Homo sapiens: one gene and its partners. The protein of the gene in region 4 interacts with the protein of the main gene of each other region in a pairwise test. Each region holds a gene or a part of one and is shown on either strand. Other genes may lie near its edges. The genes, in order: TOLLIP, VENTX, STK16 and USP54.

Evidence for each region.
Region 1: the proteins of USP54 (region 4) and TOLLIP interact in binary tests that used the Homo sapiens proteins (3 or more experiments, as listed by UniProt).
Region 2: the proteins of USP54 (region 4) and VENTX interact in binary tests that used the Homo sapiens proteins (3 or more experiments, as listed by UniProt).
Region 3: the proteins of USP54 (region 4) and STK16 interact in binary tests that used the Homo sapiens proteins (3 or more experiments, as listed by UniProt).

What each region holds. Positions count from the first base shown.
Region 1 is NC_000011.10:1,299,610-1,307,178, forward strand, and holds part of TOLLIP (toll-interacting protein), read right to left. Parts: intron 3,182-7,569; exon of another isoform or gene 2,975-3,181; intron 404-2,974; exon of another isoform or gene 269-403; intron 1-268. UniProt on the Homo sapiens protein: Component of the signaling pathway of IL-1 and Toll-like receptors. Inhibits cell activation by microbial products. Recruits IRAK1 to the IL-1 receptor complex. Inhibits IRAK1 phosphorylation and kinase activity.
Region 2 is NC_000010.11:133,232,662-133,240,854, reverse strand, and holds the start of VENTX (homeobox protein VENTX), read right to left. Parts: upstream 3,001-8,193; 5' UTR 2,941-3,000; coding exon 2,700-2,940; intron 1,180-2,699; coding exon 1,019-1,179; intron 924-1,018; coding exon 549-923; 3' UTR 1-548. UniProt on the Homo sapiens protein: May be involved in ventralization.
Region 3 is NC_000002.12:219,240,432-219,248,909, reverse strand, and holds the start of STK16 (serine/threonine-protein kinase 16), read right to left. Parts: upstream 3,432-8,478; 5' UTR 3,114-3,431; intron 3,015-3,113; 5' UTR 2,911-3,014; coding exon 2,825-2,910; intron 2,254-2,824; coding exon 2,034-2,253; intron 1,798-2,033; coding exon 1,664-1,797; intron 1,496-1,663; coding exon 1,375-1,495; intron 1,249-1,374; coding exon 1,153-1,248; intron 718-1,152; coding exon 596-717; intron 490-595; coding exon 351-489; 3' UTR 1-350. Other genes in the region: GLB1L (beta-galactosidase-1-like protein isoform 1 precursor), read left to right, coding at 5,337-5,408, 5,596-5,762, 5,992-6,142, 6,336-6,396. UniProt on the Homo sapiens protein: Membrane-associated protein kinase that phosphorylates on serine and threonine residues. In vitro substrates include DRG1, ENO1 and EIF4EBP1. Also autophosphorylates. May be involved in secretory vesicle trafficking or intracellular signaling.
Region 4 is NC_000010.11:73,587,848-73,595,280, forward strand, and holds the start of USP54 (ubiquitin carboxyl-terminal hydrolase 54), read right to left. Parts: upstream 3,496-7,433; 5' UTR 3,431-3,495; intron 1-3,430.

The DNA of each region.
Region 1 (7,569 bases), on a different chromosome or scaffold from region 4:
TATGAAAACAAAAATGATTACTCCCGATACATAATGGATATTTTTCTAGAATTTTGCTTCCATGTACAAGATGCACATACTGAGTTCAACACTAACAAGTCTAAATGCCCGTGTGAAGGCCAACAATTCCACTTCAGGAGCCAGTCCCCTGTCAATGCTCACTCGGGCACGTGAGCACAGGATGCCTGAGGCTGCGTCACCTGTGCCGTCAAAACGCCCCGTCCACCAGCCAGGCACATCCACCCAGCGCATCGCCACGCGGCCTCACCAGGAGCCGGCGGTCCCTGCCGCGAACACATGGAGACTCGGGGGACGGAGGCGGAGGCGGAGGTGCGGCACGACCTGCTGCAGGGAGCCATAAGGAGGCCTCTGTCGACACCAACTCTGGAGGAGCATTCAGGAATGGAACTCGAGGGAAACAGGCAGGGAAGATTCTATTTCAATTTATTTATACTTTTATATCCTGCTAGTTATTTTTAGAAACTTTTTAAAAACATTCGTGAATTACTTTTAAAATAAAAAGGACAGGGTAGGGCTCTCATCCCACAGAGCTCACAGCATTTTATCTTCTCTGAAAATAAAAGCTACTTTTATAAATATTAGTCTGTTTTAAATATAGTTTTAAAATGTAACTTCAAATTTCTTGGAATTGCTGATTCTCCTCCCCCATGTGCCGCTCTCAGAGGATCACGACGCAAGCCTGTGACTGACGACCATTCCTCCCTCACTGACGCCAGAGCTCTAAACCACTGCAGCGTACCTTTCCACACGAAAGAAAAGAGGTCTCCAACATTCACTTCTATTTAAAACAATTTCTCTTCAAGTCTAAGTTTTAGTTTTGGCACAGAAATAAAGTCTTAATTCTTCTTTTTTGTCATGCAATGTGTGTAGTCAATCCAAAGCTAATTTTTCTTTTTAAGCACACAAATTAAACACCCACTGTGAATATTCCTGTTGGTGACACGTCTCCAACGGAGAGAGCCGCTGCTTCCTTGGGCCACACTTTCTGCCCGACACCTGTTAGGAATACGTTTCCGACTGAGAGTGCCGCTGCTTCCTTGGGCCACACTTTCTGCCTTGACAGAGCCCCGGAAGAGCCCAGCTCAGCCCAGGACGTGGAGTCCTGAACACATGCAGTCCTGGCCTCACGCCTGCCAGGAGACATCACCCCAAGGAGCCGCACCACAGTCGCCCCTGAAGCACGGCTGGCCACACGCAGGCGGCAGGAGACCAGGGTTTCCTGGCCACTTCCATGACTGGCCCCCTGCGGAGCCTTTTTAAACCTTCTCACCGTTCCCACCCCATGACGCTGCGAGGCTGTGGAGGTGCTGTTTGTGTCTGTGTGCCACGCATGCACCTGCACTTGGCATGTAAACACTGCAAGCAAGGCTCAACGAGTCTCAGCGCTAACGCCAGGTTAGCATAACTAAGTCGAACGAAGTTCAATTAAAAACTAAAATGCTTCTAGCACTTCATGACTATGCGCTGAGCAGCGCTGAGTGTAATTTATTTACATAAATTGTAATGTATCAAATCACACGTAGAAATAAACAACTTATATAAACACAATAAAAAATATCCTTAGTGAACTGAAGCTTTTGCTTGATGTGAGAAAGTACCTTTTAACTGGCTGGCTGGTATTCTTTCAGCAAACTGACATCATTAGCGATGGGCTAAATACGTTCTGTGGAATTAAATCACAAAATGTCGACGATTCTCATTCAATTCTCCAAGCCAGAGTCTCACACCAGCACTGAGGATCCCACACAAACGGCATCCGCAGGCGCCTGCCCACCCTCCCCACCCACCTCACAGCAGGTCTGAGATCGCACATGTGTCGCGGGCTTCCGAGAACTCCGTATCCATGTGCTGGGACACCCAGAAAACCCAGGGACAATGAAATACTAAGGAGCAAGAAATCCAGGAGCTGTGCTGGGGAGGCACACACGGCCGCCAAACCCCAGAAGTTTCCTCCCCCAAGAACCCCTTGTGCCCTCTCAGGGTCAATATCACCCCCACATTGAGAACAAGCGTCAAGGACTCCTGAAGCCACAAAGCCAGCCCACGGAGGCCCCAACACAGAAGCCCAACTAGTGAAACTCTGTACCCTGAGCCCTAGGTTTCTCCAGTTCCTAACATGGCCATGATTCAACGTGACTTTCAGAGCTGGGACCCACAGCAGGAAGACCTGGGCTGGGCTCGTGGCTAAAGGGACAGAGGAAGCTAATGAAACAGAGAGAAATAAATCCCCCGTAGTAGGAACATCTAGGGATATGGGCGGAAGTCAGTCTCAAAGCCTCTTGGGCGAGGTCTGAGTGTCTGCTAGGAAGGGAGCCCCAGACTCGGTCAGGGCCCCAGGACTCACATAGAACAGCACAGTTGGTCCAGATGAAGCTGAGAACCTGGAGCCCAGGTCATCACCAGCCTCCCTGCTGTGTCTGAGGGGCTGGCCCTGCCTTGAAGGCCCTGCAAGGGGCCTGCTCCAGGCCACTGTCCTACAGGGGATGTCTGCTGCTAGGTTCACACCCAGGTCAGAGCTCAGTCTGGCCCAGGAGAAATGGCCCATCCACCCGATGCCCGCACACCTGTGTGATTCACATCCAGATCCGGGCGTGCAAGAGGGCGGGAACGCGCACCAGGGCTGAGACACAGGGCCGTGGGCAGTCAGGACAGACCCTGGGTGGCCCTGGCGGTCCCTCTGCCCAGCTGACTGACCCCTCAGTGCGCAGGGTTTCAGAGACTGAAGTGCCAGCCTGCACATGCCCCAGGCCTGCACACTCACGGCCAAGAGGGGAGCCCCGTGGAGGTGAAGGACTCACCGACACTCACTGGTGGCCACTGCCATTGCCCTGTAAGTTTAGCATTTTCCAAAATAAGGCTAGAAGGAAAACTGCAATTCCCCATGCCCACTCAGCTGCTGGCTCCCTCACCCACCACCCTTCACAGCACCAGCATCCAAAAGCTGGACCAGTACCTGACCCTGCAGCCCCTGGCACTCCAGCCAGCCTCGGCCTCACGCTCCACACCAGCCTCCTGACACTCCCCAAAACCCACTCCAGCCAGCCTCGGCCTCATGCTCCACGCCAGTCTCCTGGCACTGGCATGTTCAATAAACAACCCTTGAGCAAATAAGTGGCATTTCATGCAACTGCTCTTGGCAAGGCAGCTCCCACGCCAGTGTGGACGGGCAGTGGTGACTTTGTCCCCAGTTCCCACATCCTCCTCCCACGGCCGCTCAGCAGCCCCCTCCCAGGAGCCCTCGCTGAGCACTCATTCGCCGTGCCTTGTCTCCCCTTCCGGGGCCTTCCTCAGACAGGGCTTTCCTTCCCTCTTCCTATCACCCCCTCCCCTCTTCCTTTAATTATACAAAACACAACAGGCGCTTCAAAGCCAACATGCCGGGAGGTTCCCTGGCTCTGCTAAAGTCTCAAAGCAAACACTAGAATTTGTGTAAGGGAAGCTGGGAGATGACAGTATTGAAACGAACCCGTGTAAGCTGAAGAGCGGTGAAAGGGAAGAGTACAGGACAGAATGAGAATAAGCATAGATTATAAAAGCTGACTACAGAACAAGCGACTTTAAATGGGGTCTCTGCCAGGAACTCCACTGCAGGCAGCCTTGCATCCTAAGTGCTGGGACGGTCAAGCAAGGCAGAGGCGGAAAACCCCTTCTCATTCAGATGAAACAAAAGCCAGTCAAGCAGCAGGCCAAGGGCGGACAGAGATCCAGAGAGGGACGGCATGTGACGTGGCAGGCCCTGGGCGCCGGGCACAGGGCGCGCGCTGCGGCAGCCTCTGCGTGTCACTGTGTGCCTGAGGCTTCCATGGTGAGGTGCTGGGGCACCCCTGCTCCTGGGATGCTTACACGTGAGTGGAAGAAGACAAACGGGAAGCATCATGAGTTATGCTGTATGCTAACGGCAGGAGGCGCTGTGCAAAGAAACAGGGCAAGGCCGGGTGGCAGGGGCACGCTGCACTTCCCACAGGGCAGCAAGGCAGGCCTCACCAGCACGGTGCCAGGGCAGGGCCCGCAGGATCTGGAGACAGTGACTCAGGGACAGGAAACACTTGCACAGCAGGCCTAACCAGGGGCCTGTCGGGCAGGTCAAGGGACAGTGTTAGAGGCCCAGATGAACAGAGGTTAGGGCCGGGTGCAGTGGCTCACGCCTGTAATCCCAAAACTTTGGGAGGCTGAGGTGGGCGGATCACTTGAGACCAGGAGTTCGAGAACAGCCTGGCCAACATGGTGAAACCCCATCTCTACTAAAAATACAAAAATTAGCTGGGCGTGGTGGTGGACGCCTGTAATCCCAGCTACTCGGGAGTCTGAGGCAGGAAAATCGCTTGAACCTGGGAGGAAGAGGTTGCAGTGAGTTGAGATTGTGCCACTGCACTCCAGCCTGGGCTACAGAGCGAGCCTCCATGTAAAAAAAAAAAAAAAAAAAAAGACCTCAAGTGAACTGGGAGGCAGGCCAGAAGCAGCGTATTCAGAAGGCAGCAAACAGAGGGCCAAAAACGAAGGAAAGCCGGAGGAAGGGACATCCACTCCCGGGCTGCTCAGCAGCCACTCCAGGAGCCAGGAGAGGGCGGGGTCCCACCTTCGAGGCACTGAGGACAAGTGACCGTCCACCGGGAGTACTGTCCACCTGGAGTACCGCCCACCTGGAGTTCCACACACACAAAAATAGCTGTCAGGACACAGAGAAAAGGCATGTACAAGCAAAAATCAAGTTTGCCAGCAAGGAAAATTCTAGATGAACCTGAAGCTAAAGGAAAGTGACCCCAAATGGAAGGCCCGAGACACCAGAAGGGATAAGAAAAGAGAAACACAGAAGGAAATCTAAACAAGCGCTGACTCGAGAGAAGTAACACATTCCTGCGGGAGCCCCAAGGGGAGGTAGCACCCACACAAGGCACAGCAGCACCCGCGCCAGGACGGGGCGGCCGAGGTCTCCGCGTGGATCCGGAGGTGGCACAGACAATGATTAACTTCTTCTTTATTTATTCTTTAGCCGGGCAGCCTCCGGAGCCAGAGTTCACTCAGAGACTCCCTCATGGCAGAAGCTGATAAGTGCATGTTACCATTTCCAGGGGAGCCCCTGTACTTTCCCAGCACAGTGTGTATGTACTTGAGATAAAACAACTGAATTTTTTAAAACTCCATTTAATAAATTCAAAAGGCAATGAGAGAAAAAAAATAAGAAAATGTAGGACAAATAAAAGCACCAAAGAAAACATGTAAAAAATCTGTAAATCTGTGTATCCATCTAGGCATCTCTTAACTAGAAAGATGAAACTAGCGCATTCCCATCAAAAGACTTAGTCTTCTTAGATTTGACTTTTTAAAAATCCAGCTACGTGCTATCGATGGTGCACGTGTCTTAAACAAAAGTTTTCAGAAAAATGTAAAATCATAGAAGGAAAAAGTACTAGGTGAATACTCTCTAAAAGACAGCTGGGGTGGCCATGCCAGTATCAGACAAAATAATCAAAGGCAAGAGGCCTTTATCTTCCAAGAGGCCCGTGGGTCCCCACACAGTGAAAAGATGTGATTTCCAGGCAAGCACAGCAATTCCACACCTGTACAGACTCACAACCCGGCCTAAAAAATCCAGCGCAAAGGTTCACAGGAACCCAGAGAGAAAGGACTCGTGAGGAGGCGGTGAGTGCGTTCCCCGCTGGCTCAGGTGCAGTCAGCAGGAACGGACGCCCTCCCAGGAGCAGCCCACCAGAGCCAGCGGAGACGGGTAAGTGCCACTGGCTCAGACACACAGGATGCAGGAAAATCCACGGGCTCTTCACAACACTCAGGGGAGAGAAAGCCCACACACATCTACAAAGAAAAGCAACTCTCTCCTTGAGGTACGGGAAGATGAGGGAAAAGCATCTCACTTGCCTTTCTTTCACGAATTGTGTTTCAGGACAGCCAGCCGACACCGGTTGATGGGGAAAGCTAATCTTTACAAACAATCCCAGTTAATAAACACCGAAGAAGTGATAAAGTTCAGAAACTACCCTCTGCCATCCCTAATGAAGTCACCGATTCGGCAGGAATTATCAACGATGTGAAGAGTGAGGGGACCTGGACAGGAACAGGCCTCTCAGGGAGGAAGGGAGGGGCCAGGCCGCCTCCAGCTGGACTCCATGGCCAACCAGCACCTCCAGAAGCAGGACAAGGAGTCAGAGCAGCCTGGACACGGCACAGCGCACCCACCTCTACCAAGGAGGCCTCTCTGACGGCACCGCGGTGGCTGCAGCGGAGTCTCCCGCAAACGTCCCGAGATCTCACTGCAGAAGGCAGGGGTCCACACGGTACTCCTCGATACTCCTCGCGGGGGCCCGCACGGTACCCCTCGCAGGGGCCCCCATGATACTCCTCACAGGGGTCCACACAGTACCCCTCGCAGGGGCCCCCACGGTACCCCTCGCAGGGGTCCACATGGTACTCCTTGCAGGTACTCACCCATGCTTTCTGATAATATGCAGACTATATTGAAAAAAGGTTATCTTTCCAAAATACTGGCCTTTTTGAAACGTGAGGGAAGCACTGCACAGGGCTGAAGCATCCCTTAGTGGCTATTCAGGGAACCATTATCCTGAAGATCTAAACACGGTATGATTCTCTCAGAACGATGTCGGGCTGGCTAGCTTCACACGTCCTCTCCACACCTACCCACCCGGGCCCCTGAAGCTCCCTCTACCCAAGGACAAAAGAACCCTCCCAGGACCCCATTAGCGGCCCCTCTGCTCCTTCACGGCCCATGGGATCTTGCCGTCTCCCCTTATCACTAGGGGGAGGCAACGGCTAGACCACAGTCAGGGTCTCCCGAGCCAGAGTCCTGCCCCCGGACCCTGGGGAGCATCTCTTTCTGCTGGAAAGCTGAGCGAGCGCCCTGCTTAACCTCCTGCCTCTCTGGCACCACAGGTGTAACAGAAAGAGGACATGATAAATACTGTGTCAAGACATCCTGCAAAAGCAGGGCTCCTCTAGGTGCTAGTAACTGGGTAAAGGCCCACTATGGGTTAATTCAGAGGGGCTGGGGTGGGTCATGCTCAGCGAAGCAGGCTGGTGCCAAGGCGGGCCCTGCCTTGCGTGTGCCAGGCAACACTTTACAGAGTGCTGCGCTGAGCCGGTAAACTCCAGGGCAAGTCCAGTCCTCCTGTGCCCAGGACCCTCCGGCGGCCTCCAGCTCCTGCCTCCCTCCATCCTCGGCCCCTGGGGCTCCCTCCTCTCCACCTCCAGACCCCACACCTCTCTTTCCGTGCCCTGCCCTCCCAGCCCAACCCCTACTCCCATTCCTCCTCCGAGAGATGTCACGTCCTCACCCCAACACCCAGCCCTGGTGAGGCCCATTTACAAACTCTCCCAGCACCTGACGCTTAAGATCACAGACCCACCGGGCCGTCACCACACAGCTCAGCTGTCCTTATGTGCTGCCATGTCTACCGTGCTGCCCTGGAAGACCCCAGTGGCAGGAACCACCTGGTTGTCCCCTGCATCATGGCCATCCTGAACGCCACAGTTGGTAGCGCTGGTTGATTAAGTCACATGTACTCCAAGCAACACCTG
Region 2 (8,193 bases), about 60 Mb from region 4:
ATATATTCTCAGGGCCGGGTGCAGTGGCTCATGCCTGTAATCCCAGCACTTTGGGAGGCCGAGGCGGGCGGATCACAGGGTCAGGAGTTTGAGACCAGCCTGGCTAACATGGTGAAACCCCATTTCTACTAAAAATAGAAAAAATTAGCCGGGCGTGGTGGCGGGTGTCTGTAATCCCAGCTACTCGGGAGGCTGAGGCTGGAGAATCGCTTGAACCCAGGAGGCGGAGGTTGCAGTGAGCCGAGATTGCGTCATTGCACTCCAGCCTGGGTGACAGAGCAACACTCCGTCTCAAAAAAAAAAAAAAAAAAAAAAATATATATATATATACACACACATATGTATATATATATTTATATATACGTATATGTGTATTTACATATATACGTACATATATATATTTATATATATTCTCCAGTAATCTCCAGAACCTTTGTGTGGGTCAGGGTGAGAGGTGCCACCAGGATGTAAACAGAACAACTGAGTCCTCCAGGTAGGAGCCAGGTGCGATCAGCAAGACCGCGAGTGTGGGAGTCAGAGGTGCCTCCTCAAAATGCATCCCCCGTCTGTGGCATAGCACACAGGCCCCGGGGCCCCGTGGACAGGGCTGGTCCCAGCGAAGGCCGGCCTGGGGTAGGGGGGTGGGACGCCAGAGGCTGCCCGCAGCAGGAAGCTCCCGCAGATGCCAGGGCCTCTTGTGCCACTTGGCAGAGACCCCAGAAGGAGCCAGGGGGCAGCATCAGAGCCTGGGGCCCGGACAGGGGTGCCCAAGGGCACAGCAGCTGCAGGCCATTGGCAAGGCCAGAAGACGTTGAGTAGAAAGCTGGGGGCGCATGGAGAGACCCCGAGAAGGGGCTGTGCAGCTGGGGGTCCTGCATTTGCCGTTTGTGTTTCATGCGGCGATTCTGAAACCAGGTTTTTATCTGTAGGAAAAGCAAGATCAGAACAGGGGTGAGACTAGGCCACCAGCCCACCCTTGCCCACCCCTGCCCACCCCAGCCTGCCCGGCCCACCTCACCTGGACCTCTGAGAGCTGCATCTCCCTGGCCAGCCTCTTCCGCTCCAGAGGGCTCAGGTACTGGTGGTGCTGGAAGACGCCCTCCAAGGTGCGGACCTGCTCCATGGTGAAGGCTGTGCGGACACGGGGGGCCCGCAAGGTATTTGGCTCCTTACTCAACCCTGACATAGAGGGTAAGGGCATTTGGCTCAACATGCCACCCCATGGGGCAAGCTCGTGCCCACGGGTAACAGGTGAAGACAGCCATGCTGGGGGCTGGGCAGGGCAGATCTTCTCACCTGACAGTGACCAGCAGCACCCCCGCCGCCTCCCAGGTCACATGCGGAAAGGGGGCTCAGAGAGGGGGCTCAAGAGGGGAGGGAATGTTAACAGCAGCTTGGGCCTGCCCTCCGCTCAGTCCACTCAGTTCCGCCCCATCCCACACTTCCCTTCCAGAAGCCGGTTCCCAGGATGCCCTTCCCACAGCCTTCCAGGCCGGTAAGGTAAGAATCCATTATATGCAAAGGCCTGGCGACCCACCCAGGGGCACCCATCCCTGTCCCGGGCTCCGTCTCCTCAGCCAGCGGAGGCCAACTCAGTTAATCCCCAGGCCCACTGTGGTCAAGTCTGTTTCCTAATTTCTAAGTTAAGGAATGGGGGCTGGCACCAAACGGCCCCACGAGGTGGTCTGTGGAGCTGGGTCTGGGTCCCAGGAAAGGCCAACGTGGCCAATCGAGCTCGACATTAAATGCAAGTCTGACCAAAATGCTCGCTGGAGTTTCTGCGGAAGGAAGCGTATTTTACAAAATCTGTCTTAACGTTAGCCTGAAAGCACATGGTAGACCCAAAAAGCAAATGCCTTCTGGCAGGGAGGGCTGTAGGACTGGCATCAGAAAGGGGGTTGCGGGACAGGGATGGCTGGCTTTTTTGGGGTGGGGCAGGATAGCTAGCTGGGGAGAATACATTTAAATTTTCATTTCCCTTAAGTACAAAGTCACTCCATAAGGATCAGTCAAATTTTTAAAAATGAAAACTTGTAGATGATGTCAACCCCACTTTTGACCAAGTACTACCTTAAACCTAAAAGTGGTGATGATGTCACAAAGACTAAAACACAAACGCAGAGAACCTTTGTTCTCAGCAGACAACAGAGCATCTGGGCGGCCACAGAGGGAACTTCAGAGTTTCTGCAGGCATCGGGGTCACCGCCACCCCTGCAGCGAACCTGCAGGCTCTTTAAAGACAGCTGTGCTCCAGGTGACCCGGAATGGGCTTGAGCCTAGACGCTGAGCAGGCACCGGCTGTGCTGGGGGGCGGGGGCGGGGGGCTTGGCAAATCATCGAGACTTTCAGTGAGCGCCCGGAATCAGGGCAGGGAGGTGCGGACGGGGACCCCTTGGACGGTCCCTCGGCACCAGGCCGGGGTGGGGGACGAAGACACAGCTGAGGAACGGGGTGACAAAAGGAGGCAGAGGAGCCCACCGGGGGCTCAAGGAGAGGAAATCCCCGTCAAGGCTTTGGTTCCGAGGGAAGCTGCGCTCCAGTGAGGGCGCCGGCAAGGCCTCCGCCGGCCCTCATGGAAACGCCCCCGGCCCTGACCTAGTGGGCAGGGCACCGCGGGGAGTGCAGCCGCCGGGCTCCTGGCCTCTCCCCCACTCCCATCTCCACCTGGGAAGGAAGGGACCCCCCCCACCCGGACCTACCGGCCATGGTCCTCTCCGGCGCAGGCAGATTTGAGGACCCGGCGGCCTCCTTGATGCTGACGGCCTGAGGGGGCTCCCGGGCGCCGGATGTCTGGCCTGGGCCAGGGAGGCTCCCCAGGGAGAAGTCGGCAGGCCTGGGGGTGTGGGTCGGCCCTGAGCAGCTGCTCTGGGAGAGCCAGTCCACGGAGCCAAAGCTGGAGAGCTGCTGCGGGCCACGAGGTGGGGAGGAGGAGAGGCGCATGGCGGCCAGGTGGGCCGGAGGGAAGGCCAGGCGGGGCTGGCCAGGCGCAGGATCCACCTCGGGCCTCGCCAGGCGGCGGCGTTTATAAGCCCAGGAGGAGGGGGCGGGAGCCCGGTTTGCATACACGGCTAATGCCCAGATAAGCAGCGCCTAATTGCCTTCGATTCAGAGGCACAAAGGAGGCCGTTCACACCTCCCCGGCTCCTCGATGTCTGGGGGAGGGGCGGGGCTGCGGGCCCTGGTTAATGGAGAGGCGATGGTTCGGGATCGGTCACCTCCTTTCATCTCTCCCAACCCCCCACCCCGCGGGCCGAGGCTGCAGGAAGGTAGGAGGGTCCCACTCCCACTTGGGCCTGTCCTGGGAGGTGCCGGGCGACCTCTCCTCTCCAGGGGGACGCTGGCGCCTGTGCCCAGCCCGGACACCCGAGGGCGAGCAGGCTTCAGGCTGGGAGAGTCAGGGCGGACTTAGGTTGGGAGCAGGCTTCGGGGTGGGAGAGTCAGGCCGGTGCCCGCGTGCGCTGCGTCCAGGCTGTGCGGCCGCGCAGGAACCGAGGGAGGCTTTCCCGGGAAAGAGACGCGGAGGACCCGGGGAGCGGCGCGCGGGGGCGGGAATGTCGGGAGGGGCCTCTCGGGGGACTCGGCCGCCTCCAGCCCTAATCCGGCTCCTCTGGGGGACTCACTCCGGGGCCATCGCAGGAGCCTCTGCATTCGGGCGCGGGCGGCTCCCTGACTCCATCCCGAGCTGGAAGGGCCGGAGCCACTGCCTCGCACGGCGGGGTAGGAACTCCGCGTCGGCGGCGGGACTGGTGCGTCCCCGCCAAGCCAGGCTGTCCCCACTGTGGCCAGGGCGCGGGCAGAGCCGCCGGTGACTGTGGCGCCCAAACCTCACGGGGACGCCCTGAGCACGGGCCCCCGGGACGGTCATAGCCACGCGCGGCCGCTGCTCCCACGAACCTGAGTCCCGAGCTGTCTGCGTCTCCGCGTCCCCGGGTCGCCTGCGCGTCGGCGTGGGGCGCGGGGACCGACGTGACCGGGTGGGAGGCAGCCATGCCGAGGGTAGGACGGTGTCTTCCGCGCACTGGCTTGGGGTCCGCACGGCGTCTCCGGCGGCCGGAGTTAGGCGGAGGCGCAGGTCCGGCCCCCGAAGCCATGCGGGGTTTCGGCGCAGACGCGGGGTCCACGGAGCAGCCCCGACTCCCGGCCAGGTCCTGACCGCGGCTGCCTCAGCGCCCACGCCGCCCGCGGAAATCAGAAAGACCGGCGGGCCTCGCCCCACGGTTACGCCCGCCCCAGCCAGCCGAGCCTCCCGGGCTGAGCAAAGAGGTTGGAGCCCGGGAGGCGGGCGCTGGGGCGGGACCTCAGCCGGGAACCGATCGGCGGCCTACCTGGGGTCACAGGAGAGGGGTCGCGGAACGGACCGTGCCGCCGCTGACCCTGGTCTTCCTCGGACCCTGCCGGCCCAGTTAGGTCACTGGGCCCTCAAGGGGGAGGCTGGCGGGGGTGGGGCGCTGGGGGCTTTGGACGTGGCCTCGGGGGTAAAGCCAGGAGGGGTGGGGGGCCAGGAAGCCGGCCTAGACCCCCGCTGCACTTCATCTCCGGAGAGACCGGGTCACCCCCGGTAGAGGGGCTTTGAGCCACTGCACAGGACCGGCAGTGTGTCCCGGCCAGGGGCAGCGAGGGCCCAGATGCCTGTGGCCACAGGGCTGGCCCCGAGGATGCCCCATGGGGCAGGTCCCCAGCACTCCCGCAGTGGGGGCGGTGCCTCAAAGTGGAGCAAGACAGCACACCTCACACATCCCGCAAAAACATACAGAACGTTCGACAGGCAGGGAAAAGGCCCAGAAGCTTCCCTTACATAAAGAGGAACACCACGAGCATGCATTTCCGAAACGCCAGCACCCAGCCTTCCATTTCTCCATTTCTAATTTCCGGGGCCCAGGGCCCCGGTGTCTCAGCCCCCTTCTGTACGTGGTTCAGCACCCCCACCCCCAGCTCTACATAGAGCCCCTCCTGCCGGTTTCCCAGCCCCCCGCCACCACCTCCACCTGAACCGCCCCCTCCGATCCCCCCAAGCCCGAAGACAACCTCACCTTCACACGGCAGGGTCAGGCAGCCCCTCTCTCCTGCCCAGCGGCCCCACCACCGTGGCTCAGGCCTCCCCGCCTCCTGCAGCCCGGGCCCCTCCCTCCACCCTCCCTCTAGAGCCCGCCGAGGCTGCTCTAGCCCAGGCTTGGGGGTCCCCAAAGCCTCCGCCTCCAAGCCTCCGTCCACCCCCGGCTCTGGGACGCGCCCTGATGCGCTGCCATGGGTAGGAGACTTGGGCGCCCCCCTGCCTCCTTCCTCCCAGCCCCTGGGGCAGCCCAGCCCCGTGAATTGCGCCCCGCACGCCCCAGAGCGTGGTCCCCGCGGGCGTCGCCCTGTCCCCCACCCTCGGGGGCCAGGCCGGGTTGCGCTGGGCAGGAAGTCCCGCGTCACTCCCAGGCCGACAGCACCGCCCCCACGCACAGCCCGGAGTCCAGCTAGTCCCCGAAACGCGCTCCCCCCGAGTCCAGGGCCTGAGGACAGACACCGGGCCCAGCGCGTGCTGCCGGCCCCGTCGCGACTCGCCCGAGCCTCCTCCGAGCACTCTGGGACCACCTGAGGGGGAGGCCAGCTACTCAGGAGGCTGAGGCAGGAGAATCTCTTGAACCTGGGAGATGGAGGTTGCAGTGAGCCGAGATCGTGCCCCTGCACTCCAGCCTGGGCGACAGAGTGAGACTCGGCTGAAAAGGCTGCACATTGTATGATTCCATTCATATGGCCCTCTAGAAAAAGCGAAACTATAGGAACAGAAAATAGATCAATGGTTGCCAGGGCTGGGAGTCAGGGAGCAGGTGACTATAAAGGGACACAAAAAAAGTTTCTTGTTGTTATGGAAATGTTCCGTAACTCAATTGTGGTTTTGGTTGCACAACTATATGTATTTTTACAAATTCGTAGAACCGTACACTACAAATGGTGAGTTTTACTGTATGTGAATTACACGTCAATTAACCAGACTTTAAAAAAAGTTTGTAGAGATTCCCCAACCCCTCCCCAACACCCACCCCTGTGGCCTCGGCCTCCCTGACATCCCACGTGCCCCCTTCCCCGACGCCCCACGATCCCCGCTCCCCAACACCTCCACGCCCCCCTCCCCGACACCTCCATGCCCCCCTCACCGACACCCCACGCCCCCTTCCCTGACACCCCCACGCTCCCCTCCCCGACTCCCCCACACTCCCCGCTCCCCGACTCCCCCATGTTCCCCGCTCCCCGACACGTCCACTAGGAAGTGGGGCTGGTCTGGTGCATGGCCGATAAAGAAACGCTAAGCCGGCCAGGTGCGGTAGCTCACGCCTGTAATCCCAGCACTTCGGGAGGCCAAGGTGGTCGGGTCACCTGAGATTGGGAGTTCGAGACCAGCCTGACCAGCATGGTGAAACCCTGTCTCTACTAAAATACAAAATTAGCCAGGCGTGGTGATACATGCCTGTAATCCCAGCTATTCGGGAGGCTGAGACAGGAGAATCGCTTGAATCCAGGAGGCGGAGGTTGTGGTGAGCCAAGATCGCACCATTGCACTCCAGCCTGGGCAACAAGAGCCAGACTCCATCTAAAAAAAAAAAGGTAACGCTAAACCAACTGTGCTCAGACACTGGCCCCATTAAACAGCACACAGGAGGCTAATCCTGCCATGCCTACAGAGCGCCTTACTTATTTTGGAGACAGGCTTTCACTGTTGCCCAGGCCGGAGCGCCTCATGTGATCACAGCTCACTGCAGCCTCGATCTCCAGGGCCCAAGTGATCCTCCTGCCTGAGCCTCCAGTGAAGCTGGGACTGCAGGTGCGTGCCACCATGTCCAGTTAATTTTTGTGTATTTTGTAGAGATGGGATTTTATCATGTTGGCCAGGCTGGTCTCAAACTCCTGAGCTCAAGTAATTCTCCTGCCTCAGCCTCCCAAAGTGCTGGTATTACAGGCATGAGCCACCGCATCTGGCCCCTAGATTGATTTAAACAGCCAAAATACACTCTCTGCACCAGATTAGAAAGCATTAGAGGTCCGGGGCCCATGTATTCAGATTCATTATTCTGATACCGGGCTCAGGAGGATCATAGCACGTGGCCCCTGCCCCACTACCTGAGTAGGAAGGCAGATTAATTCTGCTTGGTGCCCCTAAATTGCTCCAGCCCAGAGATGGGTCCTTCCTCCAGGGCCGAGTGTCCAGTAACCCGAGTGATAGAGCGGCACAGCCCCCACCCTTAGGGTGCTGGTGTGTTTGCTGGGATGTGGCTGTCTGGACCTGGGCTTGCTGTCAGCAGTAACCTTCTGGAGCGACAGGGTCATGTAGGGTGCACCTAAGCTCTGTTTCAGACCCCACTGTGGCCTCAGCCTGTGACTCTGACCTTTGGGGGCTGTGTATGTGAGGGGGAATGTTTGCAAGCTTGGCTCATCCAACAGGCTTTTAGCAGCTTGAAGATTCTCAGGAAACACAGCAGGGTGGAGCTGATGTGAGACGGGGTCTCACCATGTTGCCCATGCTGGTTTGGAATGCCTGAGCTCAAAGTGATCTTTCCGCCCAGGCCTCCCAAAGTGTTGATATTATAGGCGTGAGCCACCTAGCCTGGCCTAGGGTGTCTATTTTTTTTTTTTTTTTTTGAGACGGAGTCTCGCTCTGTCACCCAGGCTGGAGTGCAGTGCACAACCTCCACTTCCCAGGTTCAAGCGATTCTCCTGCCTCCTCCTGCCTCAGCCTCCCGAGTAGCTGGGATTACAGGCTCACGCCACCATGCCTAATTTTTGCATTTTTAGTAGAGATGGGGTTTTACCATGTTGGTTAGGCTGGTCTCAAACTCCTGACCTCGTTTGTGATCTGCCCGCCTCTGGCCTCCCAAAGACCTGGGATTACAGGCGTGAGCCACCGCGTCTGCCTTCAGAGTGTTTTTTTGTTTTTTGAGACAGAGTCTCTGTTGCCCAGGCTGGTGTGCAGTGGCGCAATCTTGGCTCACTGCAACCTCCGCCTCCTGGGTTCAGCACTTCTCCTGCCTCAGCCTCCCGAGTAACTGGGACTACAGGCACCCGCCACCACACCCGGCTAATTTTTGTATTTTTAGTAGAGATGGGGTTTCACCATGTTGCCCAGGCTGGTCTCGAACTCCTGAGCGAGCTCAGGCAATCCACCCACCTCAGCCTCCCAAAGTGTTAGGATTACAGGCGTGAGCCACAGCGTCC
Region 3 (8,478 bases), on a different chromosome or scaffold from region 4:
GATCTACACCAACCTGCTTCCACTTTATTCTTGTTTACACATTCTCCTGCTCCCAGATTTGGAGTCAGAACACTATGTGAGCTCAACAGTCCTGCTCAGAGCCATGTTCCATATCCCACCAGTTTCCCTTTTCCCAACCCCCACCCACCCCCACTCAGTAAGTCCCCTTGCCCAGGTTTTGCTCTTGGAGGGAAGAAAGCAGAAGAAAAGATGCAGGACTGAGATGATTGTCCTGACCCCGCTACCCCCAAGTGTAAGAGAAGTCCTGGATGGAATGGGTGGTGATTCCAATGAGGGATGGGAACCTCTTTCCAAGGCACAAGGGGCCATCTTCTCAACATGCTGCTTTTTCAGATTTGGGTAGTATGTTGGCCAGGAGCTGGGGGCTGAAGCGCCTCCAGCTGACTGAGGAGGAGAGGAATGTGAGGACGCTGATGCGGGTCCACGGTCATCATCGAGTTCAGGAGCTGCCGCAATGCTGAAGAATGCCTGTGGAGGGAGGAGCCCAGGGTGACCGGATGACACCTATCTGTCAACTCAGCTAATACCAGGGGGGAGTCTGAAACACTTGATGCCCTATTCGTTGCTCACTCACCTGGGGCTTTGTGGGATGCTGAGTTGGTTCTGCACAGCAAGGGCCACACTGTCACCCTTTTGGAACACCATGTCATAAGGGCCTTCCCCAAACATCATGGCATATAGCACGCAGCCTAGGGACTGAGCATAACTTGATTAGTCCCTAGAAGGGGACCAGTGGAGGTGACATCTCTCCCTTTACTTCTGTGGTAAAAGGAGACTCCATAAGCTAAAAAGAATACGCTGACCTCAGCCACATGGCACCACCAGGGTCCAGAGAAACTGCCAGTCAGCTGGAGGCCTCCGCAGCCCCTGTTTAGCTTAGCCCCTGCTTAGCCAGTGCCTTCACTACTGACACTGAGCTGTACTCACCTTGTTCAGGGGCACAGATTATACCACATCCGGTACAACTGGGTACAGTATCAGTGACATTTCCCAGGAAGGAAGTTGAAGTGGATGGGGACATATTGTGGTTCCTGGCGCCCCATGCAACAGAAACCAACAACCTACTCTACTCCACGGTGGGTACAGAGCCACAGCCCTCCCTACCCAGATACCCACCCACATGCTCCTCACCCAGACATCAGTCCGCTCATCGATGACACAGTGACTCTGCACAGAGAAGAGCTCTGGGGCTCGGTAGGAGATGGTGCACCGCTGGGCTGCCCAGTCCTGGAACAGTGATCCCAGAGCTCAAAAGTGGGGCACAGGTCATGGTCATGTGACCAAACTGGGACATGCACCAGAAGGGGTGGGAATGGGGAACAGGTGAGAAAAGGAACCTGGAGACTCTTTTACCTGCAGGGTCAGAGCCTGGCGGGAGCCCTCCACATGGATGCATGCTTGATTCATGGAACCCAAGTCCATTAAAACTGGCTGCCCCTCATCTCCAAGCAATATATTGGTGGGCTTCAAGTCTCTGTAGAGAAGTAGAAGTGACCTATGAGCATCTCTGGACAGGAAGGCTGGAATCCCAGCAAGCAAAAGAATCATACAGGCTGTTTCTTGGGAGAACAGAGACCTCCCATGTCTCCTGGTGAGGCTCTTCCTCTGGGCCCCAGCAAGCACACAGGGTCCTCCCACTGACCTGTGGGCATAACCCTTGGCATGAATGGCCTCAAGGCCTCTGCAGATCCCCAGCAGCAGCCAAAGGATTTGATCCTCGGTCAGGAAGTTGCCTTTGTCCTTCAGCCTTTCTATCTCATTCCACAGCGTACCTCTCTGCAACACAAGTTTCCCTACAGTTGGAGATGTTTTTGGAGCCTCTGCTCCTTAGGCCTGATCCCTTCCCTATGTCAAAGCCTATCAGCCCTTTCATGATACACACCTCAAACTCAAAATCTAAAGTGGCCAAACCCAGGACATGGTCCCTGCTTCCTAACATGCTGGACTGCTCACACAGCCCTTGAGTAGGTGGCTCTGCTGCAACCCCCTCCATAACCAGGAGTCTTTCTGACCTTGAAGAATGGTAGCAGCAGCCAGGCCTCATGCTTAGCACCCCGTTCCCTCAGACAGTAAGCCACGAGGCGAAGGATGTTGGGGTGATTGAAGAGGCGATGCATGTCGGCTTCTCGCTGGGCCTCCTCCCGGTCCTGCTGCTCGTGACACAGGATTCGCTTCAGGGCGTAGAAGTGTCCATCATGTAACCCTTCCACTAGGTCCACATAGCTGAACCCACTGTGGGCCAAAGGGGTCAATAAAGGGCCATGGTCATCTCCCACATGGCTTGGACCTAGAGAAATTTCCTGGTGGGGAGTGGGGTGTCCTTCCCATTTAGCAGAAACCTTCCCAAGATGTGGCTCTAAGAGAAATCTGAAGAATATTACACCGTGAGCTCCTCAGGAGCAGAGATATAGAAATCTTTGAGGTCCTATGGTCGTAATAGAGACCTCTGCACTTGACAGATGCTAAATAAATAATAGCCAACACTTATCAAGTACTTGTCAACCCCGCATTGGGTGAGACATTTTATACACATTATCTCATTTAATCCTCACAACTCCATCAGTGAGGGATAATAATCATCTCCATTAAGCTGATGAAAAAAACATGGTTTATCAAGGTCACACGAGGTGGATTTAGCAGGCCTGGCTCCAGAATCCACCTTCTTGATACTGTGTAGCTAGGTTCTGTCAGGTGAGAGAGGACAGGGATAGGGATAAAACCCTTGTGCCCCAAGCATATGCACACCGCTGTCCTTCAATGATCATAAACTTGAGGACTAGTTAACTGACTTCCAAACACTCACCCCTCCCCCAGTTTCTGGATGAAGAGGTAGCGCTTATTGTCAATGATGACAGTTCCCCGAGAGCAGACACACAGCGCGTGGCCCATAATGTCTCAGTCATCCTCTTCAAGGACGGTCTGAGGCTACCGAAGAGCTCGTCCAGGGTGAGTGGGCTCTTCCAGGAGATGCGCTGGGGGCCCAGCGGATCATGCTGGAAAGAAAACAACGGCAGGGTCACAGGTCCGGCACAATCCAGACGACCCATGAAGTACCAATGCGGAGAGCTCAGGCCCAGGTCTCTGGAACCTACACTATAGTGTAGAGAAAACAGGCCCTGCTCCGTCGCCAGCTTCAGGGGTGGGGTCAGGCGCCTTACGGCCTCAGGACACACAGCGGCTACCGGGCCACTTCCTCCAACCCCAGCCCATCTTTGGGCAGCCCCCGCTCCCACGCCCATCGCGCCGCAAAAGCAGAGCATAGCGTAGTTTCAGAGGACGTGCGAGGCTCAGGCCCACTCCTGGCAGGGCCCACCCCGGTCTAGGAGCCCAGAGCCCGGGATGGGCCATCTGCACTGCCGGACTGACCTGGCTCGGGCCAGAGAGAAGCGCCACCGACCGGAAGCAGTGCTGACATCATCAGTCCGCGCCGGCGTAACGGCCCGCGGTATCTCAGCAACCGCTGGGCATCCGGAGGATGTGGGGACGCGGAGCTGAGAGGCTCCGGGCTAGCTAGGTGTAGGGGTGGACGGGTCCCAGGACCCTGGTGAGGGTTCTCTACTTGGCCTTCGGTGGGGGTCAAGACGCAGGCACCTACGCCAAAGGGGAGCAAAGCCGGGCTCGGCCCGAGGCCCCCAGGACCTCCATCTCCCAATGTTGGAGGTAGGAGGCTTCATACCTCTGGCGCTCTGGGGCAGAAAGCGGCCAACTACACTGCAGCCTGGAGGGGGATCCAGTGAGGGGCGGGTCTGGTGGCCTGGTCTCCTGATCCCGTACAACCTTCTGGGCTCTGGCCTGTATCCCACTACCCCTAGTCTCAGTGGTTAAGAGCTCAGGCTTGTGAACCAGACTTCCAGTTTCTAAATTGAGTGTTAATAGCATGCTAGCTGTGTAACCTCGGGCAAGTTACTTAACCTCTCGGATCCTTACTTTTGGTAGCTGTAAAATAGGTATAATAGTACATAAGGTTAAGTAGCTTAACTGTGAGGCCAGACTGACTAGTTCAAATGACAGCTCCGTTAACGTAGTTGTGTGACCTTGGACAGGCTACTTAATGTTTCTGTCCTTTCCTCTCCTCCTCTGTAAAATGGAAATAATTATCTACCTCATGGAGTTGAAGATTAAATGAGATGTACAGTGTTTAATACAATATCTGACACATAGCCTTCAGTACGTGTCAATAAACCGTAATTATTATTACCCTGATCTTCACATCCCATTCTTGAGACTGTAAAGGCAAAAGGAACGGAAATTCACAGATTTTCGAGCTTTGGCACAAAGCAGTTGTCCTTAATATCTGTTGCGGAGGCAGGCAGGGGTAAGCTGGAGAGGGGTGCACTTCCAAAGAAGGTGGAATGGCCAGGAGGGAATGGCTGTTTTGCTGAAACAGGACTCTCCAGGAAAGAGGTCCTTCTTGTGACCTGGTTCCTCCCTTCCACACCCCGGATCACCCTGAAGATTTTCCAATGGTTTCCCCTGGTTCTGAACCTGTTTTAGCCTTTTGGTTATGACATTGATTCATCCAGATTTAACCTACTATATACCCGGCCCTGTGCTAGAGGCTGAGGATTTGAGATGAACAGGGCACTCCCTGTCCTCAGGGAGCCCAGTCAAGTAAAGCCATGCTTCTCAATTTTGAAGGTGCCTAGGATCACCTGGGAATCTTGTTAAAATACAAATTCTGATTCTATAGGTCTGAGGTAGGATCTGAGATTTTACATTTCTTTTGTTTGTTTGTTTGTGTTTTTTGAGACAGAGTCTCGCTCTGTTGCCCAGGCTGGAGTGCAGTGGCAGGATCTCGGTTCACTGCAACCTCCGCCTTCCGGGTTCAAGCAATTCTCCTGCCTCAGCCCCTACCCCCACCCCCACCCCCACCCCCACCCCCACCCTCGGAGTAGCTTGGAATACAGGCGCGTGCCACCAGGCCCGGCTAATTTTTGTATTTTTAGTAGAGACAGGGTTTTGCCCTGTTGGCCAAGCTGGTCTTGAACTCCTGACCTCAAGTGATCCACCCGCCTCGGCCTCCCAAAGTGTTGGGATTACAGGCGTGAGCCATCGTGCCCAGCCAGATTCTCCATTTCTAACAAGTTCCCAGGTGATGTCGATGAAGCTGGTTCGTGAACTGCACTTTAACATGATGTAGAAATTTTACAAACTAGTAGAGTAAGGGGGTGGCTGCAGGCTGGAGAGGAAGTCCAGGCTAAACGCCTGGCAACTTGAGGTGGTTTCCGCCCCCTTGCTCGCTGAGGTTCCCTCCCAGGAATCCGACACGTGACGGTCTGTCCGCCGTCTCAGACTAGAGGAGCGCTGTAAACGCCATGGCTCCCAAGAAGCTGTCCTGCCTTCGTTCCCTGCTGCTGCCGCTCAGCCTGACGCTACTGCTGCCCCAGGTAAGATGAGACGGTGAACCAGCCTGCCGGGTGCGGTGAGCGGGATCAGATCCAGCGGATGAGAGAAAGTCCAAAGTAACAACCAAACAACCCGCAGGGCTAGTTCCATCTCTTCCGCTCTTGGCAGGCGCTGACCCTCGACGCTCCCTCCAGGCGTCTGCTGAGCAGCGTCTCTTTCTCTTTATAGGCAGACACTCGGTCGTTCGTAGTGGATAGGGGTCATGACCGGTTTCTCCTAGACGGGGCCCCGTTCCGCTATGTGTCTGGCAGCCTGCACTACTTTCGGGTACCGCGGGTGCTTTGGGCCGACCGGCTTTTGAAGATGCGATGGAGCGGCCTCAACGCCATACAGTTGTAAGAAGTGCTCGCAAGAGCCGCGGAGGGATGGGATCTACTTTTTCTACCGCCCCCTTATAAAGAAGGTCGGGACAGGAAGACTGCCAGGACTCCTAGGCCAAGGGTGGGAAAGGGCAGGCCAGGACCTCCTTCCAACCGCTTCCTGGAGATTCCCTGCAAGGCCTGAGCCGTTAGGCCTCCCTGGCGTCTCTTCACCTTGGTTCCTATTAACCTCTTCCTTTCTCAGTTATGTGCCCTGGAACTACCACGAGCCACAGCCTGGGGTCTATAACTTTAATGGCAGCCGGGACCTCATTGCCTTTCTGAATGAGGCAGCTCTAGCGAACCTGTTGGTCATACTGAGACCAGGACCTTACATCTGTGCAGAGTGGGAGATGGTGAGTTAGCTGGAGAAGGGATAGAACCAGTTATCCTTGTGCAGTTCCTAGACTACTCCCATCTGCCCACACTCTAGGGCCATCTCCAGCACTATATTCAATTCCTTCCCTTCCTTCCTTCCCTTCCTAGCTTCCCCACCACACCCCAAAACAAAACCTACATGCTTCTTTGTTCTCTTTATGTTTGTCTCAGGGGGGTCTCCCATCCTGGTTGCTTCGAAAACCTGAAATTCATCTAAGAACCTCAGATCCAGGTGAGTTGAGACAAAGGATTTAACACAGAAGCAAGTAAGTAAAATGGGCTATTTGGGTGCCAAAAGCAGAAGAGACCATTCCCAAATTGGAGGTCATCATTCATTTACCAAGTGTTTCCTTCATGCCCAGCAGGATGCTAGAAACTGGGGGACCAGACAGACCCCCATCCTTGTGCCGTAAAGCTTATAATATAGTGGAAGAAACTGATTAAAAAAAAAAAAAACAGCTGGGCGCGGTGGCTCATGCCTGTGATCCCAGCACTTTCAGAGGCCCAGGCGGGTGCATGACCTGAGGTCAGGAGTTTGAGACCCACCTGGCCAACATGGCAAAATCCCATCTCTACTAAAAATACAAAAAATTGGCTGGGCGAGGTGGTGGGCACCTGTAATCCCAGCTACTTGGGAGGCTGATGCAGGAGAATCACTTGGGCCCGGGGGTCAGAGGTTGCAGTGAGCCGAGATTGAACAACTACACTCCAGCCTGGGTGACAGATTGAAGAGACTTTGTCTCAAAAAAGAGAAAATCCTATCAGCTGTATCTTGACAAACATTAAATTTAAGTGCTTTTTATCACCCCCATTGCCCCCACCCTGGTCCAAACCATCTCTCTCAGCTGGCTTATTTTATAGCTTCCTAACTGGTTTCCCTTGTTTGCCCTCTCCCCCATACAATCTGTTCTCAGTAGAGTAGCCAGTGTGATCCTGTTCAAGTATAAGTTTAAAGATACATCTCAGATCTTGTCATTTCTCTGCTTAAACCTCTCTAGTAGGTTCTCATCTCATTCAGAATATGAACCATAAATTCCTTAAAGTGGTAGGTCCTACACAATTGGCCCCAGTCACCTCCTCGACATTATTGCTCTTCTCCCCCATGTTCACTCTGCTCCAGCCACAGTGGCCTCATTGCTGTTCTTCAGACCCACCAGGCCTTGGGCTTTGAGGCCTTTGCATGTGGTGCTCCTTCATCACAAGCCTCCTGCAGAAGTCACCTTGGTGAGGCCTTCCTGGTCTCTCTCTCGCTCTCTCTATACATACATATATATGTATGTATATATATATATATATATATATACACACACACACACACACACACACACACACATATATATATATTATTTTTATTTTGTTTTATTTTTGAGATGGAGTCTCGCTCTATCACCCAGGCTGGAGTGCAGTGGCGCAATCTCGGCTCACTGCAAGCTCCACCTCCCAGGTTCACGCCATTCTCCTGCCTCAGCCTCCTGAGTAGCTGGGACTACAGGTGCCCACCAACACACCCGGCTATTTTTTGTATTTTTAGTAGAGATGGGGTTTCACTGTGTTAGCCAGGATGGTCTCGATCTCCTGACCTCGTGATCTGCCAGCCTTGGCCTCCCAAAGTGCTGGGATTACAGGTGTGAGCCGCCGCACCCGGCATAATTGTTATTTTTTTTTGAGACGGAGTCTTGCTCTGTTGCCCAGGCTGGAGTGCAGTCACGTGACCTTGGCTCACTGCAACCTCCGATTGGGTTCAAGTGATTCTCCTGCCTCAGCCTCCCGAGTAATTGGGATTGCAGGCACCTACCACCTTGCCCGGCTAATTTTTTGTATTTTTAGTAGAGACAGGTTTTTGCCATGTTGGCCATGAGGGTCTCAAACTCCTGACCTCAGGTCATCCACCCCTGCCTTGGCCTCAGAAAGTGCTGGGATTACAGGCGTGAGCCACCACACCCGGCCATCCCCTCTATATTTTAGTCTCCCCATATACCACCATTTTTGTTTGTTTGTTTTGAGATGGAGTTTTGCTCTTGTTGCCCAGGCTGGAGTGCAGTGGTGCAGTCTCGGCTCACTGCAACCTCTGCCTCCCGGGTTCAAGCGATTCTCCTGTCTCAGCCTCCTGAGTAGCTGGGATTACAGGCACCCGCCACCATGCCCAGCTAATTTTTTTGTATTTTTAGTAGAGACAGTGTTTCACCATGTTGGCCAGGATGGTCTCAATCTCTTGACCTCGTGATCTGCCTGCCTCCGCCTCCCAAAGTGCTGGGATTACAGGCGTGAGCCGCCACGCCCGGCCCATTTGTTTTTAAGAAACACTATTTTAAGG
Region 4 (7,433 bases):
ATGATGAAGAATAAGATGAATCTACATTCCAATCCTAGCTCCATCACATTCAGGCCATTTACTACCTATAATAAATGTGATCTGCTGAAAGGATGCAACAAAATAATGTACGCAGAATACTTAGGGCCAGGTACAAAACAGGAATTCCATAAAGAGTAACTGTGATTATGATGACTGACCATCCTCTATATGCATTATCTCTCCCCCATCTCTCTTTCTCTTACAGGCAAACACACACACACATATAACTACTATAAAAATTTCAGGAGATTAAACTATAATTGATAGCATAAATCCCAAGGCCATATAAAAAATGGGGAAAAGTGTATCCTTTTTTTTTTCTTAAATGTATCCTTTGTTGTTGTTGTTTTTTGTTTTTGTTTTTGTTTTTTGAGACGGAGTCTCGCAGTCACCCAGGCTGGAGTACAGTGGCGTGATCTTGGCTCACCGCAACCTCCGCCTCGCAGACTCAAGCAATTCTCCTGTCTCAGCCTCCATCCATAGTGGCTGGGATTACAGGTGTGTGCCACCACGCCCAGCTAATTTTTGTATTTTTAGTAAAGATGGGGTTTCACCATGTTGGCCAGGCTGGTCTCAAACTCCTGACCTCAAGCGATCCGCCCACCTCAGCCTCCCAAAGTGCTGCGATTACAGGCGTGAGCCACCGCGCCCAGCCTGGGAAAAATGTATTCTAAAACCAGTGCATTCTCAATACAATTCACCCAGACTATTGCAGAAACTTTCTAACTATTCTTTCCTCTCTAATCCCATCTATACAATATTGCAAAAGCAAACTGATGAATCACAATTAGCTTAGAAAACTTCAGTGACAAAATACAGCCAAAACTCTGGCTTTGAATGGCCTTCCACAATCTTATCCCCTGCACATTTCCAACCTCATCTACCCTTAAAACATACAAAAAGATTTGTTCTGTGCACATGCCCAGTTACTTTGTTTTTTGTATTTCTCAATCAACGAATGCTCCTCCCATCTTCCCAGTCCTACCTAATACTAGCAATCTTTTCCACTGAGCAAACCTATTTGAAGAAGTCATACCACTGGCTACTTACAGTGATAGGAACTACTAATAGTCATACATCAGCAGGAAGGAGCAGTCATTTACATTAATTCATTTCCCAAATGATTGTCTTTTTAAATACCTCTCCACACCAACTGGGACTTCTCTCTCCCTCCCAGGAACATCATGAATCAATATTTAACCAGTATATCAATACTTTATTAGAATACAAGGTAGAAAGTTACATTGCCTTACACTCAACAAATGCTCATTCCTTGTTAAACAAATAAATGAAGAACTAAGTTTCATGAGACCAATCAAACTCACATTTTTCCGTTTAGAGATAACTCAGTTACAGGCATAACCAAACAGCTCTTTAGCTTGTCCCTGAATCTCCTGCCAAAATCATATCGCATCTAAATCATACCTTGCGCTTCCAAAAGGTCTACAGAAGAAAGATACTCTATTTTATGGTCAGTAGGACAAACGAAATGTTCTTTCTAAACCCTACTGCCAATAGTAGCAAACTAGTAATAGCAGTGGTTAAAGGAACAAAAATCAATAGCAATTTATTAGGCCCCTGGATAGCAAAACAATGAGTTCCAGAAAGTTACCCTATATAATAACCTTCTGATTTAATCATTTAGAACCAGAGATTTTTATCCCGAATTTTATGAATCACTAAGACTTTTTAAACACTTGATTCCATCAATGCATTATTTATTAATCATTATAAATATACCCGTACTCAAATTATTTCAGTACAAACAATAATGAAAGTATGACAGTGCTATCAACAAGAGGAAAAAAGGAGGGGAAGCAAACTGACAGCACTGGCTTGACTCATTTCTGTTGGGAGAACACTGGTACTGAATGGCACAAGCAACTCCAGTGTGAGAGAGCAAGCACATGACTGACTGGGAGGGCGACAGAGGATACCAAAGAAAGGAGAATATCTATAAAGAAGATTTCCTCTGTAGGGGCAGGAGGTGAAGGGATGAGAAGGAATGAAATCTACTCTAACAGCCTTTACAATACTCAAATGAAAACATGCTACCAGACTTCACACTTTGAGCCAGTTCACATCCTAGCTCTACCACTTACAATTGAGTGACCTTCAGCAGATTACTTATCCTCTTTCATCAGGTGTAAAATTATAATAATGGTAGCCCACTTAGTGAATACAAACTACATGTTTGGCACTGCGCTAGGCACTGGACACATGGTATATCCTCTAATTCTCACAATTAACCTGCCAAATAGTGATTATTTTTCTCACTTTGCAGGAAAGAAAACCCATGTTCTTTCTACCTATGTATAGCCGCTTTGTAGAGGGACAATACTACTACCTGGCCAGGTTGTACTGGGAATTAGAAGTAAATGCAAAGCACTTAGCAAGGACCCAGCACTTACCTCATATTAGGAGCTCAAGAAATCATTACTGTACGAATACAACCATCATTTGAATAAGTGCCTCAACTGAACAGCAATGAAATCCCAGAAACAAGTTTCCTCTCACATCATCTACCATAAAGATGACTTCTAACTAGCAGTAGTTTGGGAGAATCCAAAGCTCATCACTTATAACTGCTTGAAATACCAAAGTATCAACCATCCAGTATCCAAAAAAAAATTTTTTTTTAATACACACACAAATATTCTTAGAAGCTCAAAACACAAAACGCAAGGAAATAGCCCATTATGAAAGTGATATTTGACTCAATCTAAATATCAAATATTAAATATTTTACTTTCAAAAGGATCATAGGCCTCATGCCTCAAGGAAGCAGGTGCTAATGAACAAATTTATCTAACTTCCCAAAAATCATTCCCAGAAGCATCTGTTAACCTGAAGTACTTGGCAAACCATCTCTTAGAATTGACAACATATTGCCAAAATCTTAGTGGATTTTGCCAACACTATTCTGCTGATAGGAAAAAAGAATCATTCAGCTACTTTCCAATTTAGCCACAAAATAGGCTCTTTTTTCTTCATTACTACTTTAACCAGTATGTTAATACTGAAAATAGGTATAAAGAAATCACAAATAACCTTCTTCTGTTTGAAGGAAATTTAAAATACTAAATCCACAATTCTTGCCTTTAATTCTAAGGAACTCAAGAAAATCTATGAATTTTTTTTTTTTGGAAAAAATATGAAATCTCCAAAATCTAATAATTGTAACAGAGAGGAGGGGGAAAGAGCACAAACAACAGCTTGAAAGATGCCTCTTGAAAGTTGAGAGTCCTAAAATCTCAATTTCAAAGTTTAATCTACTGCTATTAAAAGAAATAGCTTATTAATCAGTGCTTGGGAATATTTTTTTTAAAAGAAAGAAAACTTCACAAAAACTAACCGGTTCCTGAATCTTCTATCTATCTGTTTTTACCACAACAACTACAATACTTACCAGACAGCACAGTCAACCTCCAGCAAAAGACCTCTAATCACGAGGGTATCTGTGGGGCAAGTGATACAAGAATGGGGAGGGATATGGGAATAGCTAGAGCTGTGGGGAGGGAAGGCTAGGAGGGAGGAGACGACTGTAGCTAGCAACAATGAGAAACTGTGAATCTAAACCACAAGGACTTCCCGCAGAACAGGATATCAGAGAGAAGGCAATTCTTTTTACCAACTACCAGGAACTCAGCACTGACAATTCATGACAAAGTTAAAAAGGTGGAGCTTCCAATTAAAAACAAAGTAAACTTAAGAAACTAACCAAAAGTAACTTGAAAGGACGTTATCACAAACTTCACCTGAGGCTTAAGAAAAACAATTATGAAGCTGTTTCCTGGGGCATTCCTGATGACAAAGGTCATTAAACAATAAGGTTTGCAGGGTGGCTGCTGCTTCCAAAGAAGGGCCAGTCCCCCACAAAAAAATTCCTTTGCACTGCAGTCAAAAGGAGCACGAGAAGACAACATTTTTGTAGTTGTTTACAGAATAATCAAAACAATGTTATTGTTGGAATCCCTAATTCAGAATTCCAAGACTGGGCTTAAATTAAATCAAATCATTTTAATAGGCAAAACTCCTCCAACTGTCTTAAACGAGCCACACTATTAAAGAAAATTATTATTTAAACTGAGCCATTGGAATCTACTGAGTCAATTTTAAAATGCTTGGGATCTAAGGGTTCTCAACCCCAAAGTCCACAACAGGGAAAGATCTCCACCCCTCTCTCGGGGAAGAGACCTAGTTACATCACCAAGAACAAACAGCAGGCAGAGTCCCACCCCCAAACATGTGATCAGTCAACCGAGAACTTGCATTTGCAGGCAGGGCACAAAGGCCCCAGAGGACCAACACACACCCTTCTATGTATTACCTGAGGTTATAAAACAGTTTTATTGAAAGAAGTTGTTTTATAAGCATACTGATGAAAAAAACTCATCAGCAGAATCCTTGCCAAATATGAAGGTCTGTTGTGTTTCTATAGGTTGAGAGAAAATATACGAGTTGACTAAAAAAAAGATGTAATTAAGATTTATTGGTAAAATTTAACAAACATGGGCAATGTCCAAAACTAATTAAGCTCTTACATTTTAACAATACAGTATATTAAATTGAAGTAGTCCTTTGGCCACAAGGAAAGTGCCACAAAAAAAAAAAAAAAAAAAAAGATACTGTTGCTTTTCTTGTTAACCATTAGCATTCTAACTCAGGTCTCCTAGTGGTGCTAGGTGGAGGAGGAGGTAGTAATGCCATTTCAAAGTGTGAAACACAAAATTTCTACTGATAAGTGCTGACTGCAAATAAAGACATACAAACATCAAGACCAAGCTCTTCAATCAAGTCATTAAAATATAGGTATATATTCATTGTGAAACTAATCAAATAAAACTAGAGTACTGGGACAGAGTTACAGAGCTTCAACCCTGATTACAACTAGACAACATTACTTTTCATGTCTCATCCAGGTAAGGGAAGTGATCCACAGGGAAATCTCACTCTAATAGATTGTAATCTCTCCAGAGGCCCCTCAGAAAACACCTCCCATAAAACTCTGCTATGATACTCACATTCTGCCTTGCATAAGTTATTTTCAGACATTTCTTATTCCCTCTTCAAGACTGCACAAGAGGTTCTGTGCCAAATAGAAAGAGAACCCTGTATCAACCACTGGGCTTCGCCATTCAAAATAAATTGGGTAACTACAAGTTTTTGTTAGGTGAGTGTCAAACTGCCTGTAGAAAAGGTTTTATAGGCCGGGTGCAGGGGCTCACGCCTGTAATCCCAGCATTTTGGGAGGCCATTGCGGGAGGATCATTTGAGCCCAGGAGTTCAAGACCAGCCTGGGCAACACAGGGAGGCCCCTTCTCTACAAAAAAAAAAAAGAAAGAAAGAAAGTTTTTAATTAGCCTGGTGTGGTGGCACGCACCTCTCTGGTCCCAGTTACTCCAGGCTGAGGTGGGAGGATCCCTTGAGCCCAGGAGGTCAAGGCCCCAGTGAGCAGTGATTGTGTCGCTGCACTCCAGTCTGGGCCACAGAGCAAGACCCTGTCTCAAAAAAAAAAAAAAAAAAGGAAAAATAAAAATAGAAAGAAAAGGTTTTGGGTACATGATTGCTAACTACGTCAAGAGGGAGAGTGATACATAGTGTTTCAGATTATTATTTTTTAAAATAGGGTTTTAGTTTAAATGTTCAGGTATTCTAAAGTTGGATGACTAGTTACAACAGTACTTTGTAAAACTGTGCTTCAACAAAACTTAACAAGTCATATTTTTCAAGTACTTTGCAGGGAATATGTAACACCACAATAGGTCCACCTTAGACCAGAATAGACAAAGGTCTCTGAAAAAATATAAATATTATTAGCAAGGAGAAACAATATTTAGGATTTGAGTAAATCAATCAAGAAAAATCCTTGGAGGGTAGTGGGGAGGGTAATGGAAAAGCACAGGCTGAAAAGTCCTATTTGGTCACATTCCGTAGCTTTTCATTATTGGTTTCTACTAGCAAATAGAGTAAGGTACAACAGAATGTTCAATGCATTGAAAGAACATTTTGCTTCTCTTAAAAGTCATAAAAGAGAAACAGAGGATTTCTCTAAGAAAAACCAAAATAACTCCCTCTGGAGTAACCCCAAAGTCAAACCATCATTGTCTTTTATTTCTGAGATGCTAATGATAATGCTGATGTCGGCAGTAAAGGCAGGAACTGAGTGGCTCCGCAGTAGGAACACGAGATTGGAAAATAAAAGACTCTTTTTTTTTTTGAGTCCAAGTCTTGCTCTGTCACCCAGGCTGGAGTGCAGTGACACGATCTCGGTTCACTGCAACCTCCACTTCCCAGGTTCAAGTGATTCTCCTGCTTCAGCCTCTTCAGTAGCTGGGATTACAGGTAGGTGCCACTACACCCAGCTAGTTTTTGTATTTTTAGTAGAGATGGGGCTTCACCATGTTGGCCAGACTGGTCTCGAACTCCTGACCTCAAGTGATCCACCTGACTCAGCCTCTCAAAGTGCTGGGATTACAGGTGTGAGCCACTGTGCCCAGCCAATAAAAGACTCTAGATTTTAGAATGTAGTGACAAAATTTGGGAACTTTTTAAGAGACAGGTTCTTCCTCTGTTGCCCAGGCTGGATGCAGTGGTGTGATCACAGCTCACTGAACCCTCAAATTCCTGGGTTCATGCAATCTTCTACCCTCAGCCTCCCGAGTAGCTGGGACTACAGGTGTGTACAACCAGACCCAGCTAATTTTTTAAAGATTTTTGGAGACAGGGTCTTAGTATGTTACCTAGGCTGAGACTTTTAAATAAACTGGAGGATTGGGGTGGGGAGGGGTGGGGAAGAGACTGCTTTATATCAAATGAAAGCCTTTATCATTTGATCCTGGGGAGAGGGGAAGCTTAATTCAGAGCTGTTAAACTGGAGTTCTAGCAAACAAAAATTAGAGACGGACTTGATCTTAGCTAATAAGGAACCTAAGAGAAAATATTCTAGCCTTTGACTCTAGGTTGTAAGGAAGAATATACCATGAAGTAGATGAAAAACAGGGAAAACTACATAACTAATTTGAGTCTAGTGGGTTTTTTTTTAACTTTTTTTTTTTAATCTTGGTTTTGTTTGAAGACAGAGTCTCACTCTGTCACCCAGGCTGGAGTATAGTGCCATAATCTCAGCTCACTGCAATCTCTGCCTCCCGGGTTCAAGTGATTCTCCTACCTCAGCCTCCAGAGTAGCTGGGATTACAGGTGCACACCACCACACCTGGCTAATTTTTGTATTTTGAGTAGAGATGGAGTTTCACCATGTTGGCGAGGCTGGTCTCAAACTCCTGACCTCAGGTGATCCACCCACCTCAGCCTCCCAAAGTGCTGGGATTACAGGCGTGAGCCACCAAGCCCCACTGGTGTTTTCTTTTAAAGACAGAGTCTCACTATGTTGCCCAGGCTGGAGTGCAGTG